Linked DNA regions of Homo sapiens: all the other regions are reported to be linked to region 2. Evidence: microRNA targets listed by miRTarBase, many of them from high-throughput screens and not tested one by one. Region 2 holds a microRNA gene; each other region holds the end of a gene's coding sequence.

Region 1 (7,198 bases), not on the chromosome of region 2:
CCAACAGATTCACACTGGAGTGAAACCCTTTGAATGCAACGAGTGTGGAAAAGCTTTTTGCGAGAGTGCAGACCTCATTCAACACTACATTATCCACACTGGGGAGAAGCCCTATAAGTGCATGGAGTGTGGGAAGGCGTTCAACCGTAGGTCACACCTCAAGCAGCATCAACGGATTCACACTGGGGAGAAGCCTTATGAATGCAGTGAATGTGGAAAGGCCTTCACCCACTGCTCCACTTTTGTCTTGCATAAAAGGACCCACACAGGAGAAAAACCCTATGAATGCAAAGAATGTGGAAAAGCCTTTAGTGATAGGGCAGACCTCATTCGCCACTTCAGCATCCACACTGGAGAGAAACCCTATGAGTGCGTGGAGTGTGGAAAGGCCTTCAACCGCAGCTCACACCTCACGAGGCACCAACAGATTCACACTGGAGAGAAACCCTATGAATGCATCCAGTGTGGGAAAGCCTTTTGCCGGAGCGCAAACCTTATTCGACACTCCATCATTCACACTGGAGAGAAGCCGTATGAATGCAGTGAGTGTGGAAAGGCTTTTAATCGCGGCTCATCCCTCACACATCATCAAAGGATTCATACTGGGAGAAACCCTACCATTGTAACAGATGTGGGAAGACCTTTTATGACTGCACAGACTTCAGTCAACATCCAGGAACTTTTATTAGGGAAAGAGTTTTTGAATATCACCACTGAAGAAAATCTGTGGTGAAAGGGAACATCTTACCATCTGGCCATTCACACTGAAGAGAAACTTCATAAGCATCCTCTCTTTGAGAAAACGTGTAATAGATGATCATTTGTCGTCTAAACAATCAAGTTAGAAATTGAACCAGCCTGGAGTCTTATTCTCCACCTGAGAATTCACCCATGAGAGAGACCCAGTGGTTGCTATGCACTTAGGAAAACTTTCAGCCACATCTTTCTTCTTAGTTTACAGTGAAATATTATCTCAGGGATATTTTTTTTTTTTTTTTGAGACGGAGTCTCGCTCTGTCGCCCAGGCTGGAGTGCAGTGGCGGGATCTCGGCTCACTGCAAGCTCCGCCTCCCGGGTTCACGCCATTCTCCTGCCTCAGCCTCCCAAGTAGCTGGGACTACAGGCACCCGCCACTACGCCTGGCTAATTTTTTGTATTTTTAGTAGAGACGGGGTTTCACCGTTTTAGCCGGGATGGTCTCGATCTCCTGACCTCGTGATCCGCCCGCCTCAGCCTCCCAAAGTGCTGGGATTACAGGCGTGAGCCACCGCGCCCGGCCATCTCAGGGATATTTAAACAAAGGAAGAGGAAATATAGGGAAGAGAAAGAAACCACAGCTTCTTTTAGACTTGTCTGACAAGCCTATGGCAATTTTGTCGTCCCTTTGTTATTTTATGTGGGAGAGGGAAATGTTTCAGAAACGAAAGATCTCATCCCCTTTATTTTTCTGTGTATGCATTCACTGCTGCCCAGTGTCAGAACAGTTATACAAACGAGGGCTTGAAAACATTTTGTGAAAACTTGCTTAGTCCTGCAACGTTCTCCACTCTCGAGGTGCAGAAGCATACATCTTTATAAAAAATATGGAGGCTTGAGTTATGAAACACTTTTATAAGGAGATAAGGATGTACATATGTTTGGACACATTGTCCACTTCAGATGCTTGTTTAAAAAAATGTTTCACCATGTGTCTTTACCCAATACACATACTTTTTCTTGATGTGGATTTACTTTTTTTTTTTTTTTTTAAGTTTTCCTGGGATAGGGATGATAGTGTAATTGTTCATGCCCACAGTAATCCTGGGAATCTTAGTTTTTTCCTATGATTGTGGTTTCTCAGCTTCTTTACCTCTCCTTTGAGTTAGGTCCACCTCAGTTTTCTAAAGGTCAAATTAAGGCCCCCCCAAAAATACAGTATGTAGCTGAATTCCTTTGAAAGATCATGATAAACTCAGAAGAACAAACATAGAAGGAATGTCATTTTTAATCTTTTTAAAGAGTGTGTGAAAATTCACTTTAACTGGAATTTTAACAGGCAAGCCGGCATGCATATATGTAGGGATGTGTGACTTTCACAGTTGTCACCATGGACTTAGGCTTGATTAAAATGCTACACATTTAGAGCGTTTTGTAATTCCTTTTTTATATTTTTAAGACTAGATTTTGAGCCATGTGATAGTTTTACCTCATATTAAATATATTGTACAGAAGTAAAAATAATCATGTATTCACTTTGAACTCCTCAAAGCCTTTTTTATTTATTTACTTATTTACTTACTTGGTTTAGGAGCAGAGGTTTAATAGGCAAAAGAAAGAGAAAAGAGACTAGCTCTCTTCTGAGAAGAGAGGGGTGTCCAAGTGGGACTTCCCTCCTCAGAGCCTTTTTTTTTTTTTTTTTTTTGGAGACAGAGTTTTGCTCTTGTTGCTCAGGCTGGAGTTCAGTGGCACAGTCTTGGCTCACTGCAACCTCTGCCTCCCGAGTTCAAGCGATTCTTCTTCAGCCTCCCAAGTAGCTGGGATTACAGGCATGCGCCACCACGCCCAGCTAATTTTGTATTTTTAATAGAGATGGGGTTTCTGCATGTTGGTCAGGCTGATCTCGAACTCCTGACAGGTGATCCACCTGCCTCGGCCTCCCAAAGTGCTGGGATTACAGGTGTGAGCCACTGCGCCCAGCGCTCACAGCCTTTTAGTGAACACTTGTATAGTTTTCTATTGTAGGCAAAGCCATTTTGTACTGCATTAATTCATGTCATTATTTTGAAGACATCTCTTGGTCCTTTTTTTTTTTTAATTGAGATGGAGTCTCGCTCTGTTGCCCAGGCTGGAGTGCAGTGGTGAGATCTCGGCTCACTGCAGCCGCCTCCACCTTCCGGGTTCAAGTGATTTTCCTGCCTCAGCCTCCCAAGTAGCTGGGACTACAGGTTTGTGCCACCACACCCAGCTAATTTTTGTATTTTTAGTAGAGATGGGGTTTCACCATGTTGGCCAGGATGGTCTTCATCTCTTAACCTTGTGATCTGCCTGGCTCAACCTTCCAAAGTGTTGGGATTACAGGCGTGGCCACTACGCCTGGCCCTCCTTGTCCTTTTTATGTCATGTCTAAGAACTCCTCACCAGGTTTTCTATCGTATTTCCTCCTACAAATTTTATCTTCTACATTGGATCTGATTCATGTTAAGTTAATTTTTGTATTACAGTATGAACTTTAGTTTCTTTTGTTGTTGCCCATGAATTTTTTTAAGCTCCATTTCTTGAAAAGACTATTCTGCCTCTATTGAATTGCTTTTACACCTTAGCAAAAAATTATTTAAGTATATTCATGTTGGTCTATTTCTTGGTTCTCTATGTTATTCCATTGGTCTTCGAGCCTAAACCTATGCCAATACCACTCTATTTTGATTACTATTGCTATCTACTAAATTTTAAAATAGGGTAAACTTATTCCTCACTCTTTATTCTTTTTAAAAATTGATTTGGGGCCAGGCATGGTGGCTCACGCCTGTAATCCCAACACTTTCGGAGGCCAAGGTGGGCAGATTACATGAGGTCAGGAGTTCAAGACCTGCCTGGCCAATATGATGAAAACTCGTCTCTATTTAAAAAATACAAAACCTAGCCAGGCAAGGTTGCAGGCGCCTGTAGTCCCAGCTACTCGGGAGGCTGAGGCAGAAGAATTGTTTGAACCCGGGAGGTGGAAGTTGCAGTGAGCTGAGATGGTGCCACTACACTCCAGCCTGGGTGACAGAGTGAGACCCTGTCTCAAAAAATAAATAAAAAATAAAAATTGATTTGGCTTTCATATCAATTGTTTCCTTTGGCTTTGTATATACATTTTATTGCATGTTTGTCTCTATGAAATATGTTGCTGGGATTTTGATATAAATTGCCTTAAATCTAAAGATCGTTTTGGTGGGAATTGACATCTTGTTGAGTCTTGCAGTTCATGAATATGGTACGTCCCTCTGTTTATTGAGGTCCTCGTTGATTTATTTCATAAGGGTTTTGTAATTTTCAGCTTATAGATTATGGACATATTTTAAAAATCTAGACAGTTTCTTAGAGGGCCATTATATGTTGTATTGAGTTTTAAATTTCAGTTTGCACTTGATACTTGCAATTATAGAGAAATATATAAATTAGAATTTTTATATGTATTCTGTGACTTTGCTGAAGTCAGTAGTTCCAGCAACATTTTTTAATAGCTTTCTTAGGATTTTCTTCATAAATATTAATGTTATTAGCAAACATCAAACATCTTACTTCTACTTTTTTTTTTTTTTTTTGACACTCTTGTTCTGTCACCTAAGCTGGAGTACAGTGGTGCGATCTTGGCTCACTGCAACCTCTGCCTCTCGGGTTCAAGGAATTTTTACCCTCAGCCTCTCGAGTAGCTGGGATTACTAGCACACTCCACTATGCCCAGCTAATATTTGTGTATTTTGTAGAGATGAGGTTTCACCATGTTGCCAGACGGGTCTCAAACTCCTGAGCTCAAGTGAGCCTCCTGCCTCAGCCTCCCAAAGTGCTGGAATTATAGGCATGAGCCACTGCTCCTGGCCCAAACATCTTATTTCACCTACCCAATCTATATTACTTTTATTTCCTTTTCTTGTGTTTATTGCACTAGCTAGAACTTCCAGTGTGATGTTGAATAGAAATGGTGAAAGAGGACATACTTGCCTTTTTCTTGATGTTTGGGAGAAAGCATTCAGTGTAGATCGTTAAATATAATACCTGTAGACTTTTATGTACATGTTCTTTAGAAAGTTTCCCTTCTGAGTTGCTGAGGGCTTTTATTGTGAATGGGCATGTAATTTGCCAAATGCTTTTCCCCCTTCAATTGATATGATCATGTAATTTTTCTTCTTTAGCCTGTTATGATGGATGGCTTTAACTGATTTTAGAATGTTTTGTTGTTTTTTTGAGACCAAGTCTCACTCTTTCGCCAAGGCTGGAGTGCAGCAGTGGAGCAATCTCAGCTCACTGCAACCTCCGCCTCCCAGGTTCAAGCAATTCTCTTGCCTCAGCCTCCCAAGTAGCTGGGACTACAGGCGTGCACCACCATGCCCAGCTAATTTTTGTATTTTTAGTAGAGATGGGGTTTCACCATGTTGGCCAGGCTAGTCTCGAACTCCCAACCTCAAGGGATCCGCCCACCTCGGCCTCCCAAAGTACTGGAATTACAGGCATGAGCTACCATGCCTGGCCGCTTTTTGAATGTAGGCCAGCCTTGCACTCCTGGGATAAACCCCACCAGGTCATGGAATATGATTTTTTTTTTTTTTTTGAGACGAAGTCTCTGTCACCCAGGCTGGAGTACAGTGGCACGATCTCGGCTCACTGCAACCTCCACTTCCCAGGTTCAAGCGATTCTTCTGCTTCAGCCTCCCGAATAGCTTGGACTACTGTCATGTGCCACCATGCCTGGCTAATTGGAATATGATTTCTTTTAATTACAACATTCCATTTGCTAGTATTTTATTGAGAAATTTTGTATCTGAAATCATGAGTATTCCATCTGGCCAAATATGTGGCTGGAATTTCATCAAAAGTGGCAGAGGGGTTCCCAGAAGGGACTGTTTCAAAAAGTCCTGAGATAGGACCTGTTGGGATTCCAAAGAAAGGAGCATAAAACACCAGGGTAATCAGTTCAAATCATTGTTCGGAGGAACTTTCATACAGGGTTGTGGGGGCTGCAGTGTGTCCTTGTGTTGGACAGCAAACAAAAAAAAAAGCTCTACTTGTGTACGTCTGCAATGAGAAGTTTGGGTTATGGAGAGTATATGAGGGCTTAAGGAATTTGGCTCAGATCCAGGGCCAGTTTCTACATGTTTAGCAACATGTTTGATCTCTCAGTGTTTCGGGCAACAATGTAACTGTCAGTGCCTGGGCATTCCAATCCCTAGCTTACGTTTAAGCCTGCAGGGGAAGACATGCACTTGGTCCAGGGTCACAGAGCTGTCAAGGCACCTTGCACTTCTAGGCCAGGACACAGAAAGGGGAGTTGGGGACCACTACAATGAGCAATGTTGGTCAGTAGTTTTATTTGTTTGTTTTCACTTTATCTGATTTTGGTGTTTGACTAATACTGGCCTCCCAAAATCAACTGGGAATTTTTCCTCCAGTGCCACCCCCTTTTTATTTGCATGACATTTTGTAGAATTGGTGTTGTTTCTTTAAGTATTCGGTAGAATTTTTTGGTGAAACCATTTAAGTCTGGAGGTTTCTCTTGTGGAAGGTTTGAATTACGTAGTCATTCAACTTAATAGGTACTCAAACTATTTCATATTGGGTGGGTTTTGATAGATTATTATTTTTGAGGAATTGTTCCATTTCATCTAAGTTTTGTAACTTAAATTTGTGGAGTTATTTATTTGAAGTATTCCCTTATTATTCCCTTCATGACAGAAGGTTCTATAGTTGTATCCTTTGTTTTATTCCTAATAGTGGTTATGTGTGTCTTCTTTATCTTTGTTAATCTTCTTAGATGTTTATAAATTTTATTGACTATTTCAAAGAACCAGCTTTCTGTGTCATTGATTTTCTATGTGTTCTGACTTTGATTTCTATTCTGATCATTATTATTTTCTTTTTCTACTTGTTTTGGTTGTATATTGCTGTTTGTAGATTCTTGAGGTGGGAGCTTAGATTATCATTAGAGACTTTATTCTAACATAAGCATTTAGTTTTATAAGCTAAACTCAGCACTGTTTGAGCTCCATCTTACATTTTCCTATATTGTAATTATATTTTCATTCAGCTTAACTATTTCTCGATTCCATTTAAGAAATTATCTGTGACACATGGGTTATTTAGAAGTGTGCTCTTTTGGCCGAGCACGGTGGCTCACGCCTGTAACCCCAGCACTTTGGGAGGCTGAGGCGGGCAGATCATGAGGTCAAGAGATGGAGACCATCCTGGCCAACATGGTGAAACCCCATCTCTACTAAAAATACAAAAATTAGCTGGCGTGGTGGCGGGCTCCTGTAATCCCAGGTACTCGGAAGGCTGAGGCAGAAGAATCGCTTGAACTCGGGAGGCGGAGGGTGCAGTGAGCTGAGATCGCACCACTGCACTCCAGCCTGGCGGCAGGGCAAGACTCTGTCTCAAAAAAAAAAAGAAAAAGAAAAGTGTGCTCTTTCATTTCCAAGTATTTAAAATACTCCTGTTATCATGTTGTTATTTTTAGTTTCAC
Region 2 (7,186 bases):
ATAAATATATTTAAATGTTTTTCCAAACCAATACAACTATATCTGGATTCACTGCAAAAACATTCCCATTCAATGCAAAATAATTTGGTACAATCCGACCAAAAAAGACAAAAGTAATTAGTTGCCTGAGGGAAGCTAGTTCCTCATTATTACTGAGCCCATAATTAAACCTGATATGCTAGAGAAATGGCAAGGCAATAAACACAGAGTGGGGCAATATTTAAATGAAAACAAGAGTGACAGAGCTGGAAAGAGCGAAAACCACATGAATGCTAATTGACAGAGAAGGATAACAGCCTCACCGGCTGAAATGAAAGACGGAGTTTCGGAAGATTTCCTTCTGTGAATAGCTGACAAGGATCACGCAGGCAAAAATGCTACCGTTCCAAGCTACAAACTTGGGACTAATCCCATGTTCATTGTCCAAACCCAGCAACGGAGTACTTTTTTGCTGTTTCATTATGGATTTCCATTTTTTTTTTTTTTTTTTGGCAGTTGGGGGTGGGGTGTTCTGGTTTAATCATATTCAGAGTTTGAGCTTGAAATAACCAACTCAAGACCCACAGGAGACTATGTCACCAGATAAACCCAGTGCTAGAATCCAATGTCCAGCATCTTCAACCACTCAGGAGTGTTTGCTGAGAGACCAGGTGGTGCTTACCCACCCAACAAGCACTTTCCATCTTTGGGTTTGCCCAAGATGTTTACCATAAATGAAAGGGGTGGGGAAAGGATTATAGTTGACACAAACATAAATTAAATATCCAATTCCAGCATATGTTACAGCTACATCACTATTTTTAATTGTAATATTTCTAAAATGTCATTTAATCTCCTTACACATTGAAGAGAACAAACAGTGGGAGTGTTTATTCCTTAAGAGAGAATAAACTGCAGAGATTAAAAGTTTCCTTCGAGTGTATCATCTTATTAAAAAGTACAAAGTTTCATGAACTTTCAACAAGACTGCAAAATAAATATGCCAGGTAGGTTGAGCCTATCCAAGTGAAAACAAGGTTATTTGACATTTAGTGAGAGTCAATGAAAATATGAATTATTTCAAAGGAATTCATGATCCAGGTAGGAGGATTTAGATCCTACGGTATGTTAGAATAAAGCTAGTTTCTAGCAGATTCTGTTAACAGCTCCAGACTAGAGGGGACGGAGTGTGCTGCTTTCCATTCTCTTCTCTACTTCTGTCACTGGGGAGAAGATACACGGATCACAGGTCTGAGAAGTGTGCATTAAAGCACATTTGCTAGGCTGAGCACTGGAATGGTGTGGGCTGGTGTGAAAATGAAGCCTACGTCTTCTTGGACCCTCCCAGAGCCCTTCACCTCAAGGGTTAGACATCTCTCCTTCTCTAAACTAACAGCAGCACTCAATCCCTGGTGTGTCCGAAGTGGTGCTTGGAAAGATTCACAGATACCAAGAGGGGCCCACCCAGGCCCCAGCTTGATTTAGGAGTGTAAGTTACACTCAGCACTCAGCCCACGCTGAGTCTGATGCCCACAGGTAAAGGGTAATGCTGGCCATCGAAATACAAAAGCTAAAGGAAGCACAACATTCTCTCTGCCTCCCTGCCTTGCACCTGGCCTCCTTATCTGTCTCCCAGACTTGAAAGATCAGTGTATACACATCAACGCGGTAGACCAGGGGGAGTCTGACAATGAAAGGAGAGACAGCCATGAGATCAGGGTGGGACTGGTAAGGGAGCTCTTCTCTGAATCCAAAATACTTTATCACCAAAGATTTCATGAAATGACATTTATTGTTTAAAAAAGCGTGAGTCTGGAATTAGATAGTGGTGATGGTTGAACAAGTTTGTGAATTTACTAAAACCACTCAATTGTACGCTTAAAAAAAAAAGCAAGCTTGAGCTGCCTAAGTCCCGCTCACACACACTGGACTTGTACTAAATGCTCAACGATTCCATTCTCTCAGACTATGGAACATTCTGTCACATTTTTTTCCTTCAGGAGATTTCCCTAAGAAGAGCTGTTTGCAAAATATTGCACTTAATTTGAATCCAGGGGGACCTGATGTCTCCTGGAAGAAAACGTACACTCACATGCCTTCCTGCCTGCAGCAGATGGCGGGAGTGGTGGGACAAGGGGCTCAACAGCAGTTTCCATGAACATTGTTTCCATCTTCCTCTTTGTTATACACACAGAGACACAGATTTAAAGGAAAGTATCATCTGGGCTGAAGGCGGTGAATGGTATCCCCCAAACAGGGATGTGAACTTTTGAATGTTTTCAGCTCAGAGGCAGTATGGTCGTCCTAATACCTCAGGACTTATGTTCAGTGAGATGTTAAGAGACAGGTGGCAACCTTGGCTCAAACACTGGACTTAATTTATTTTATTCTTGCTAGTCTTTCACTTCTCAAAGACGATGCTCTCAATCTTCATCCAGGTGAACTGCTCCCACTAATCTAGCCACCATTCAGTCACACCCTACGTCCTCGTTTCCTCATGCTTTCAGCGTTCCGACACCTCAGTGCACTTGAACTTTAGAGGCTATGGTTCGGTTGTCCTTCAAGGAAAAAACTGCAACATGACCATCATTTGTTTTCATTTCCTGAGTAAGCTTTGCAGTCCCTCACAGACCTGTGAATAAGATGAATCACATAAAGTGAATCATATCCTCCAGGGGGGCTTATCACAATCAAGATTTGCCAAAAAACAGCCAGGCATGGTGGCTTGTGCCTGCAGTCCCGGCTGCTTGGGAGGCTGAGGTGGGAGGATCCCTTGAAGCAAGGAGTTTGCAACCAGCCTGAGCAATATTTAGCAGAGCCCTGTCTCAAAAAAGAAAAAAGATTTGCCAAAACACAAACCTTCAGAGTAGTGCTCACAGGATTCCAAATTAATGTTAAAGTCACAGTCTGATGAGGGATTTGAAAACATTCCTGCACACTCTGAAGGCTGGGCATTTGCTAGCCAGTTGAGACAAAATCAGGTGTTGGTTGCCTGGGTATGAGAAGGTGAAAGCCCCATTCATAAATCCCTATGCCTTCCCATTTAAAGTGTAACAAAACCCCTCAGGTAGACTTGTTGGATAACAGGTGTGTGATAAGATTTCCACGTTACAGGGTCATACACGACTGACTGCTGTGGACACTGAGTACATGACGGGACCTATGGTCCCCTGGAGAGAAGCAGGGTGGATCACACGGGGACCATAGGCCACAGTGTTTAACACTGCCCAAGCCTGTGATTCTTCATTCCCTGAATCATGCATATCCTTGCTTTTTATAGGACTCACAGAAAACAACCATTAGCAATTGTGAAGCTCAATTCTGACAGAGACTTAGGAGAGAGACCTCTTTCTTCAGGATCACCAATTATGCCAAGGTCTCAATATACAGAGGTTTACCACGCTGGGCTGGTCAGGTGGGCAGGAAATCGGTCTGATTAAGGCAGTGAGCAAGGTAGGAGAGCTCTGAAACAGATTCGTGTTAACGAAGTACAAGGACTGAGTTGGCAACTGCTACGGAGTTAAGAGAATTGTAGTTATTTACACCACACAGTCCTAGTTTTTCTTACACACGAGTCCGCACAATCATTCACTGTAAAATTTGGTAGTATGCACAGAGTTTTCTTTAAAATAAAAACTTGAAAGAACTTGAAGGCAGGAACCAGTGGCTTCATCTTGGTATTATCATCCTTTCTATGGCACACAGGATATGGTCCCAGTTTTTACAAAATATAGCAAGAAGAGTCACGGCAAAGAAGGTGCCAAGAATGTGGCAGCGACTCTTCATCATGGGTGAGACGAACTTCGCGATGGTGGACACACACACTAAGATGACAGTCATGAAGGCCAGGATCACGTTGATGCACCTCCCCAGGAGAACTTTAGCATTCACGGTGTCTGTCTGCAGAGCTTGCTGCTCTTGCTGGTGGAGCTCCAGCTTAGAAATGCGAGTCTGGCAGGATTCCAAGGCTTCCTGTGAGCAAGAGGGAGAGCAAGGGTCAAACGGTGTTGGGATGGTGAGCAACACGTGAGTGCTCGCTCAGCTGTACACAAAAGCCCCAGCTCAGAAAGCCCAATGCCCAGGCGGCTGCAAATCCCCAAACCGATGATGATGGTGATAGACAAAGATGTGGAACAAGAATCCCAGGCTCATTTTCTCCTGTTGTTCACGAGTAGAAGAGCATGTGGATACAACCACAAAATACCATAAATGAGGAAGTATGGCTAAGTTTTTTGACTTTACCTGTTTTTTTTGAGATGTAGTCTTGCTCTGTCGCCAGGCTGGAGTGCAGTGGTGCGATCTCAGCTCACTGCAACCTCCGCCTCCTGGGTTCAAGCAACTCTCCTGCCTCAGCCCCCCAAGTAGCTGGGACTACAGGTGCGCACCACCATGTCTGGCTAATTTTTGTATTTTTAGTAGAGATGGGGTTTCGCCATATTGGCAAGGAAGGTCTCGATCTCCTGACCTCGTGATCGGCCCACCTCGGCCTCCCAGAATGCTGGGATTATAGGTGTGAGCCACCATGCCCAGCCGACTTCATCTTTTTTTTTTTTTTTTTTTTTTGAGACAGAGTTTCACTCTGTCACCCAGGCTGGAGTGCAGTGGCGTGATCTCGGCTCACTGCAACCTCTGCCTTCTGGGTTTAAGCAATTCTCCTGCCTCAGCCTCCTGAGTAGCTGGGATTACAGGTGCACGCCACCACGCTTGGCTAATTTTTGTATTTTTAGTAGAGACAGGGTTTTACCATGTTGGCCAGGCTGGTCTCAAACTCCTGACCTCAAGTGATCTGCCTGCCATGGCCTCCCACAGTGGTGGAATTACAGGCGTGAGCCACCATGCCCAGCCTGACTTTACCTATTTTTGAAATAAAGTGATATAAAATATTGGTGCCTGTTGGTGCCATCAGGGACAAAGCAGAGAAGGAGGGAGGTTCCACTTTGTGACTACTCCACCTTTCAGCCAAGGAGTGTGTGGGATCTCCAATGGTCAGTCCTTATTTCCACCGCTCAAAGATTTTTGTCCATCAGTTAGAGATTGGCGGAGGAAGGCGAGAGAAGGGAGGGGAAGGGACTGGGGCTGACTGTGGGGCAACTGTGCTTTCACCTGCTCTCTGAACGCGGTGTTACTCAGGACACCATCCGAGGCTATCTCCCTGGATCTCGTCCATGCCAAGTCTTCAATTACTAAGACACAGATGGCTACAAGTGTATCTCTAGGCCAGTTCTTCTTCTGAGATTGACTCACAGATCTCCATGCCTCTTTGACATCTCCATCAGAGCTTCCTGAAAGCACCTCAAATGCAACACGTACAAATGTGGCTTCATGTATTGCAGCTACCCAACACCTGCAGTCAACCCTCTTCCCTTCCAGTGTCCTTCTTCTCAGAGTACAGCACCATGATCCACCCAGTTCCTCATACCAGAAGCCTAACGGGCATACCCTGATACCCTTCTCATCCAACCCGTCGCCCAGCCACGGAGGCAACATCCAGTTTCTAGCTCAATTGGTCCGGTTCTCTCTCCACCCGGTCAGCACCCCAATCTAAGTCACCGGGATCTCCTGCCTGCAATAACCTTACACGAATTTCCCTATACACTCTTTTGTTCCCCACCCTTACGAATCCATTTTCCACACAGCCACCCAAGCGGTCTTTTAAGGATGCATATTTGGTATCACTCCTTTTCATAAAACCTTTACAATCTTTAATATGGCCTTCTGAGGCCTTGCAAGGCCAGGTTCAGCTCCCTCTCCTCCCTCACTTAATGACTTCATGCCAGCCGCTTGCCCTGTCACAGTACTCTGGCCTTTTCTAAGTTCTTTTTTTCTTTTAAGAGACAGGGTCTCACTCTGTTGCCCAGGCTAGGGTGCAATGGCACAGTCAGAGCTCACTTCAACCTCAACCTCTGGTCTCCTGCCTCCATTCCTCCTGAATGACTGGAATTACAAGTGCGAGCCACCACACACAGCTTTATTCTAAGTTCTGAAAAGGAGCACAGACTCACCTCAGGGCTTCTGCATATTCAGTACACTCTGCCTGAGACATGTGCCTCCCCCACTCCATCCCTTCTTCACCCGTGGATCTCCCACTCATTTTTTAGGTCTCGCCTTGATTGCCACATCCCTGGGGAAGCCTTTCCTGATCCATGAGATGAGATCAAGTCTCCCTTCAGCTCTCCTCCCCAACCACAAGACATACGCTGCCTGAGGACAGGAACTAGCCCATCTTGCATTTGCTGTCCTCTCCAGCACAGAGCCAGCGCCAGGCATGCAGCACGTGCCACACACTGGCTGAATATGAAAGAGACAGCTAGGTGCCAGTAAGAGAATGTGAGGCTTGATGGGTACAGTGGCGCATGCCTGTAATCCCAGCATTCTGGGAGGCCGAGGCGGGTGGATCACTTGAGATCAGGAGTTCAAGACCAGCCTGGCCAATATGGTGAAACCCCCTCTTTACTAAAAAAAAAATACAAAAATTAGCTGGGCATGGTGGCATGCACCTGTAATACCAGCTACTCAGGAGGTTGAGGCAGGAGAATCACTTGAACCCAGGAGGCGGAGGTTGCAGTGAGCCGAGATCACGCCACTACACTCCAGCCCAGGCAACACAGTAAGACGGTCTCAAAAAACAAAAAAAAAAAACAGAATGTGAGGCTTGAGAGAGAAACCTTCAGGCCTGCTGGGTGAAAAGGATCTAACTAGAGGTAGTACAATGTGCCCCTCTCTGTTCTAACTCATTTGCCCATCTGTGTTTGCTCAATTAAAATATAGTCACCTTTTCAGGTTTTAAACAAGAATAATGGCTCCAAGATTGATTTGCTTTTCTTCTGCTGAATAACTCTATGGGCCAAAGAACAGGTTCTCTGTTACTATAGTAACTTCTATTATACTAGGCTACCAACGAAAAGGATAAAACTTCTTCAGATCTTACATTCTAGAAAGTGCTGGCTTTCAGCAATAACAGGCATGTACTAGAAATCATGTGTTCTTTTCAACTACTTGGGTCCAAGGTTTCCTCTATTTTAGGCATAACACAGAAAAGGTGATGGAACAAGACAAAAGACCAACCTTTTAGGAAAATCCATGAATCTTTGATTATAAAATGAATTACGTGTACAAATAGACCGATCTTAGAATTGTCTTACAACTGCTGTCAATTTTTTTTAACCAAAAGAAAAATCCAAGAAAATTAAGGGTGAATTCCAAGGAA
Region 3 (7,179 bases), not on the chromosome of region 2:
GGGATCCAGCTTTTGGTTTATAATATTTAAATACTTGTAATAATTACAAGAAGCAGAGTATTTGGTTTCTTTGAGCAAAGGAGAAGTTGACAGGATGAATCGCCAGCACCCTCCCCACCCACAAATCCTGTTTTTGGATTGTTGGTGTACCATACTTCAGTCTCCCACCCCACCTCCCACACCCATCACTTCTCTTCTGATGAAGTGCTTTTAAGAAAATCATTTTTGTATTTAATTGATTTTAATGTTGAACTCTGGAAGTTGACCATTTCCTTGAATTTTGGGAGAAAACTCCAATAGATGTCAGAGACATGCACTGTCCAGTATAACTGCCACTAGCCAGCATGTGGCTATTTAAATTTAAGTTAATGAAAATTAAATAAAACTTTAAATTCAGTTCCTCAGTCACACTAGCTATATTACAAGTGCTTAATAGCCATGGCACACTTATACAACATTTCCATCATCACAAAAAGTTCTATTGGACAGCGCTGTCCTAAACATTTTTATCTGGCCTTTAATGCAACGTTTGAAAGATACCACCAAAGTTGTAACTAATGCATAAATATAAACTAGATGTTTTTATGATATCCAAAATGCCCTTATAAGCACTCAGTAGCCTTAAAGCCCAACTTCAAAGGCTTATCTAATGCTACAGTGTTTCTAAACAGAAACTCTAGACATATCTTCCTAAATACAAACCTAACTGGGACTTGCTTGAAGTTTCCTCCTGAGAAAAAAAATCCAAACCAAATATAATCTGATACTTAACACCACAGCTTAATCCCCAATAATCTGGGCAGTTAAAATTGTCTTTTATTTTGATCTTTAAAGTTCTCACTAATTTTAGATTTAATTACCCCTTCCCTTACCGGTGTGTTAACATCTTTCCTGTGTTGTGAATAGCTAATGACCATTTTTCTCTGTTGCAGGTGAATGCACAATATTTGCAGCTGTTCGTGATTTAATGGCTAATCTTACACTGCCCCCTGGTGGGCGTCCATAGACACTATTGTTTTTAAACCAGGAAGGCTGACAGATGAGACAACAAAAAAAATCTGAATTCAGCCTTCAGTTTAAAAAAGGAAAAGGACTTTTTTTTTAAACTTTAAGAGCTAAATATTCTAAACTGGCAAAAATTTTCAGGGTGCACTTCTTTCATCAAAATGATCATCCATCTTTTGTATAATGAACTTGTATAGTGTGTTTAAATGGGACACATTTCAAAGGAAATAAATCAGTGTCCGTTTGCCAGTAATAAATTTAATATTCTGTTTTATACTATAAAGTTATGAAAATGCCAAACTTGTTTATTTAATTGTTTTCTTATGTTTTGGGTGTAATAGTCCTTTTTTGGTTTTTGTTTTGTTTTTTAAGGCAGGTCTGTCATTTTTGAATACTGTAAAACTGTGATAAACTTTATATTGAAGCTGTATTTTAATATGACCGCTTTGAATCCTTACATGAAATGTTCTGGGAGTTGTTATAAACACACCCCAAGGAAGCAATATTTAATAAAACTAGGTCAAAAACAAAACAAAACAGTGACACTCACTTGTGTGTATATAAACTCTAGAGACATCTTAGGCCCTCCCTTCATCTTTAACCTGGTGGATGGAGCCAGTTATTAATTTATAATAATACATGTCTGAAATTTGACCAAAAACATCTTCTTTATGTCAAGGTTAATATATTTTCTTCAGACATTCCTAACTTGACTAGTGGTTAACATTTAGCACCTTGGTTGTCTTTCAATATATAGGATTTGGGTGAAAAATAAGGAACTTAGTCTTTGAGAAGGGACAGTATGTGGTTCGTATTGATCAAGGATCCCAAATAATGCAATCATTCTCATCTGTTGAGGATGTGGGAACTTTTCTGTCAGGAAAATTTAGTTTACAGAATACTTCTGCATACAACATTAATTAGGAAACAAAGAACTTTAATGCTGTACCTCTGCATGAAGTTTCTGTGAGCTTTCTTTATCTTGCTTAACTTATCCTCCTTTCCTTCCCCACCAAAATTGGGATTGTTCTAAACAATTTCAATTTAATTCATTGTCAACAAAACGATAGAATGTTTTGCTTGGAAGAAACCTGGTCCATTCCCCTCATTGTGAAGAATCCCGAATCCTGGGCCTGTCCAGGGTCAAATGGAGTTTTTGGTATTAATACATCTCTGCAGGGTTTCTTTTTGGAGCACTGTGCTGTCTTTCCTAGTCAGTCAGGGACTTTTTTAAGCTTCAAAGAACATGGTCTGATGCAAAGGTCTTCTACCGACTTCATGGTATTTAGGAAAAATTTTTAAGTGATAATACCATGCCGAGTTACCTGGTCACTGTAATACTGGTTCTCCATTAAAATGTAGATGCTTTGTCTAATTCCACTTCAAGATGATTTAATTGAGCTTCTATAACTATCAACTATCAAATTCTAGTTTCAAGTATCTCACTGTACCTATATCATATCTGTTCTCAACTTTGTTTGATTCTCCACTCATTTTCAATCAGAGTTGAAGCCTTCTTTGCCTTTCTTCTTTGTCTTATTTCTGCCTTCATCTCCCACTTCTCACCCAACTCTGCCACTGTTCAGGAGCAGTTGACTAAACTTTTATCCTTCCTTTAACTTAATCTTTTTATCCTTCTGTTTTTAGTTCTTACAGTGGTAATCACATCAGTTTGGCAATCTAAGATGTCTTTATCAAGGGTCAGCCCTTTTCTATTTGGAGCTGAATCTTTTCTTTCATGTAGAAATCTACATGTATATACAAGAAATGTATTTTTATCTGCAGGATAATATTGTTTCAAATAATTTTATTAAGAGTTAACTTTTTAGGTATTTTCCCTTTTAATGTGGTTTTGAAATGTTAATTGCATTTTTACACATGATGCATTCAGTGGACACTCTTTTTTCCTAATTATAACTCATCTCTGAATGCATTGTGCCAATCAAGAGTAAGATAGGATTCAGTGCGCAAAATTTGCTTTTGATGCTTATTAAGAGTAAACCCATGAATTTGAATTTTTATATTATGCTTGGTACTTGGAATTGATATATACCTTATTAAAGCTTGAAAACATTTAGCATTTGAATAGTAAGTTTCATCACAAATCATGTCTTTTGCCTCTTTTGTTACCCAGGTTCGATCAAGGGGACTGGATGCCCAAGTGATTTTCTCTAATAATCGGGTTGGGACTTAACTTTAAGGTGTTTTCAATGTGATTTTAGTATTTACAGTAATAAATAAAATTTATACAAAGTTTCAGAGAACTACCAACTCTCTAGTTAATTTTGATGAAGATGTTTTCATTAATAGTCTGGTTTAGTATTAATTTAACCTTGAAATAAGAAATTGGTCCTGATTTGCCACCTTCATTTTTCCATCTGCTGAAATGCCATTTCAGAATGTATAAAAGTACTTTCAGAATTAGAAGAAAAGTGAGAGCTTCAGCAGAACGTGTCAAGTCGCTAATAACAGGAGTCGAACCTTATGTTTGAAAATTAACTGAGTGAGTTAAGTGCAAGCATAAACTAAAATTTATATGACTTTGAATTTAAGAACCACTAATAACTGTGTTCTAATTAACACAGTAATCTGTTCAGCCAAAGGATACTAACAGCCATTCTTTGGACTGTGGTTAATTTGATAACTTCAAGAAGTTATAACTTTGCTACCCTGGATTCTGATGCAATTTCAATATAAAAAGTTGTTCCTTTCATAGTTTTTCCCCCCAAAAGAAGTGCCTATTACATTTTACCTTAATGTTTATTTATCATCCAAGTGTTCTTGATATAAAATCAGTATACAGAAAATTTTAAGAGAACTTACATTCAAGGGACATAGAGGGAAAATGTTAATGTGTATTTCATTGTTTCTTGTGGAATTTTTTTTTCATTCGGTTTGAGAATGGACAGTGTGTCTAAGGATGTGATTTAAATTTACTTAGGATGGATTTAGCATTGAGGTTATTAAGACAAAGTTAGCAGAGGCCAGCCAGCACTGTGCTGCACAACTCCAGGAACTCCATGGTATGCTCACAATTTTCTGCAAGTTGCCTCCACTTCCAAGTGGCCAGTGATTTGTTAAAATACCTTGCCCAAGAATATAACTGATTGATGAAAGGGCATATTTAGGTCAATATAAAATAATAGCAAGTATTTACTGAGAGCTTACTGTGTGCTAGGCATTTTCTTAATATTTCAATGTGTATTTAATCCTCACAACAACCCAATGTGGTAGGTTATTGATATCCTCTTCTTAAAAATGAGTAAATGGAGGCCCAGAGAAATGTAATTTGCCTGAGATCAAATTAAGGTTGCTTAAGATCAAACTGCTAAGAAGGGGCAGTTTGAGTCTGAGCTAGTGCTCCTAAACACTGGACATTTTTGCTGTGAACCACAGTCGGGAAGGTTTAATGTTTAGACTCTTTCCTCAGAGGCTTTTAACTACACACAATTTTGACATGTTTTCCAAGCTCAGAAAGCTCATTAAAAACAACTAAAACTGACCTGACTTGTCACTTGGAGTTGACAATCCCAGTGCCTTCTGACCTTTGTGGCACTTCTTTGGAACTTAAATCAGACTTCCATGTGCAAGGAGCACTAATTATCATATAATCAAGAATACTAGATAATTATCGTCTAACCTTTGCTAGGTGCTTCAGGATGCCCTTATCTGGCTCAGGTGTGCAGCCTTCTAGAATCCAAGTGATGTGTTGCCCTAAACAGGCAAACGCCCCCTTCTGGGTGGTCCAGTGGCGGGGGATTTTGAGTTTTGGGTTAGCTTGGCACACCGCAGGCAGCCAGCGGTCACGTTTCACTAATACCTCAATTTGCTACAGCTGGTCTGTGGGCTTAGGAACCAGTAACTCTAGAATTGTATAATGCAAAGAACATACACGATTCAAGCAATGTGCCCTGAGCACCTTGTACATCTGGACAATAAAAAAAAGTTAAAACAGAAGTGCCCTACATTAGGAGAGGGAGTCGAATCGGATGCTGACAGGGTCTCTGTTTGGGGGACGAAGAGGGCCTAAGGGTTTCAAATAGTTAACTGCTTCCCCAAGCACCAAAGTTGTTAGACGTCAGACGTCAGACGTCACCCAAGTGGGGTGGAGCCGACGTGCCCCGGAAGTCAAGATGCCCCGCCCCGGGATCGGTGGCACCGCGCCGCGCAGGCGCAGGCGTCGCTGCCGCCGGCGCAGGCGCCGCTGCCTCGGGTACTTCCCAGGCTCCGCGCCTGCGCACTGCCGTCCGCCACGCCCCGCAACCTCCTGGTTCCAAGTGGGAGACATGGTGCTGTCGGAGCTAGCGGCGCGCCTCAACTGCGCCGAGTACAAGAACTGGGTGAAGGCGGGCCACTGCCTGTTACTGCTGCGCAGCTGCCTGCAGGGTTTCGTCGGCCGCGAGGTGCTCTCCTTCCACCGCGGCCTACTCGCCGCAGCCCCCGGCCTGGGGCCCCGCGCCGTCTGCCGCGGCGGCTCACGGTGCAGCCCTCGCGCCCGCCAGGTGAGCACCTGGCTCGGGGCCTTGACCACCGCCCCCACCCCACCCCTCCTCATCCCCGTTCCTGTCCCAGACCCAGAGCGCAAGTGTCCTGTTCCCTCCGCGATGCGGGGCCCACCGCGACGTCCCTCCCTCCTGGGCCCCTCCTCACCGCCGCCCCCTGTAGTTTCAGCCTCAGTGTCAGGTGTGCGCTGAATGGAAAAGGGAGATTTTGAGACATCATGTCAACAGAAATGGAGATGTGCACTGGGGAAACTGCCGGCCGGGCCGCTGGCCCGTGGACGCCTGGGAGGTGGCCAAGGTAAGCGCCTGAGGCGGGGACGGAAGGAGGAAGCGGCGGGTCACCCAGCACTCGGGGTGGCTATCTGGTCTTGTGGTCGCCGGGGCCTCATAAACAGATGCAGAGAGAGAGATTGATCAAGGGTCTAGGCGGTTCAGGGGTGGTATGCGGGACCCAACCCAGCTTAGTGAAGTAGAAGCTTTCTTCTACCCGTCTGCTTCCTGAGGGCATTTGAGTTTGTTACCCCTGCTTGGAAAGTTACAGGAAAGAGTTCTACAAGAGATACTGGGGCAAGATGCAGAGCGAGCATCATGAGCACAGGCAGGGAGGGAGGGAGACTCTTGTGTGGCCTGTTTGAGGGTAAGGCTCGCTGAACAGCTCATCAGCTCTTTTTTGGCTATAGGATGCCGTAAGGATGACAGAGTAAGCCAAGGGAAGTTAGGGCTAAAATAGCACCTTAAGTGCCCAGTTAAAGGCACTTTGGGTAGCTGGGAATGGGGTAGGCAGCCGGATCTGTCTTCAGATCTTGGCAATGTCACTTACTAAGTAGATCGAGTAGGAAATTTTTTTGCCCAGTAAGGGACGGAGAGGGACAGCCAGAAGTGGCTTCCTAACACAAATTGACTTTAGCAGTCAGTCTACATGCCAGTAGTTATCAGCAGGCACAGGGTGGGCACTGGAAAGGAGCAGTGCCTGGGAAGCAGATGATCTGAGTCCTGGATCAGCTGCCGTGGTGTGACACTGGGCCAGCTTGTGCTCCCCAATCTCAAAAATGAAAGGACGGCCGGGCGCAGTGGCTCACGCCTGTAATCCCAGCACTTTGGGAGGCCGAGGCGGGCGGATCATGAGGTCAGGAGATCGAGACCACGGTGAAACCCCGTCTCTACTAAAAATACAAAAAAATTAGCCGGGCGCAGTGGCGGGCGCCTGTAGTCCCAGCTACTCGGGAGGCTGAGGCAGGAGAATGGCGTGAACCCGGGAGGCGGAGCTTGCAGTGAGCGGAGATCGCGCCACTGCACTCCCGCCTGGGCGACAGAACGAGACTCCGTCTCAAAAAAAAAAAAAAAAAAAAAAAAAAAAAAAAAAAAAAAAAAAAATGAAAGGAATTGGGGCCGGGCGCGGTGGCTCATGCCTGTAATCCCAGCACTTTGGGAGGCCAAGGTGGGAGGATGGCTTGAGCTCAGGAGTTCAAGACCACCCTGGATAACATGGCAAAACCCCGTCTCTACAAAAAAATACAAAAATTAGCTGGGTGTGGTGGTGCATGCCTGTAGTCCCAGCTACTCAGGAGGCTGAGGTGAGAGGATCACTGGAGCCTGGGAAGTCGAGGCTGCAGTGAGCCGTGATCACACCACTGCATTCCAGCCTGGGTGACAGAGCAAGACCCTGTCTTAA

Evidence for each region. Region 2 holds the annotated microRNA hsa-miR-7844-5p (AAAACUAGGACUGUGUGGUGUA, at 3,520-3,541, opposite strand). A microRNA usually pairs through its seed, bases 2 to 8, with sites in the 3' UTR of a target mRNA and lowers its output. Matches are read on the target gene's strand: a 7mer-m8 pairs with bases 2 to 8, a 7mer-A1 pairs with bases 2 to 7 and ends in A, and an 8mer does both.
Region 1: the mRNA of ZNF543 is a reported target of hsa-miR-7844-5p. Seed matches in the 3' UTR shown: 7mer-A1 at 952-958.
Region 3: the mRNA of MED14 is a reported target of hsa-miR-7844-5p. Seed matches in the 3' UTR shown: 7mer-A1 at 1,893-1,899 and 7mer-m8 at 2,433-2,439.

Annotation. Positions count from the first base shown.
Region 1 is chr19:57,328,533-57,335,730 of GRCh38, forward strand. It overlaps ZNF543 (zinc finger protein 543), which reads left to right. Exons shown (of 4, transcript NM_213598.4): 4 at 1-2,238. The coding sequence ends at 733. Among named protein-coding and RNA genes, the nearest start is that of ZNF543, 12 kb to the left of the region's middle.
Region 2 is chr12:94,567,787-94,574,972 of GRCh38, forward strand. It overlaps MIR7844 (microRNA 7844), which reads right to left and starts at 3,566; the gene lies at 3,445-3,566. It overlaps TMCC3 (transmembrane and coiled-coil domain family 3), which reads right to left. Exons shown (of 4, transcript NM_020698.4): 4 at 1-3,951. The coding sequence ends at 3,649.
Region 3 is chrX:40,645,633-40,652,811 of GRCh38, reverse strand. MED14 (mediator complex subunit 14) reads left to right here. Exons shown (of 31, transcript NM_004229.4): 31 at 933-4,507. The coding sequence ends at 1,006. CXorf38 (chromosome X open reading frame 38) reads left to right here and starts at 5,251. Exons shown (of 7, transcript NM_144970.3): 1 at 5,251-5,507; 2 at 5,671-5,805. The coding sequence starts at 5,292. RefSeq lists silencers at 5,035-5,215, 5,051-5,350, 5,471-5,620 and an enhancer at 5,871-6,070.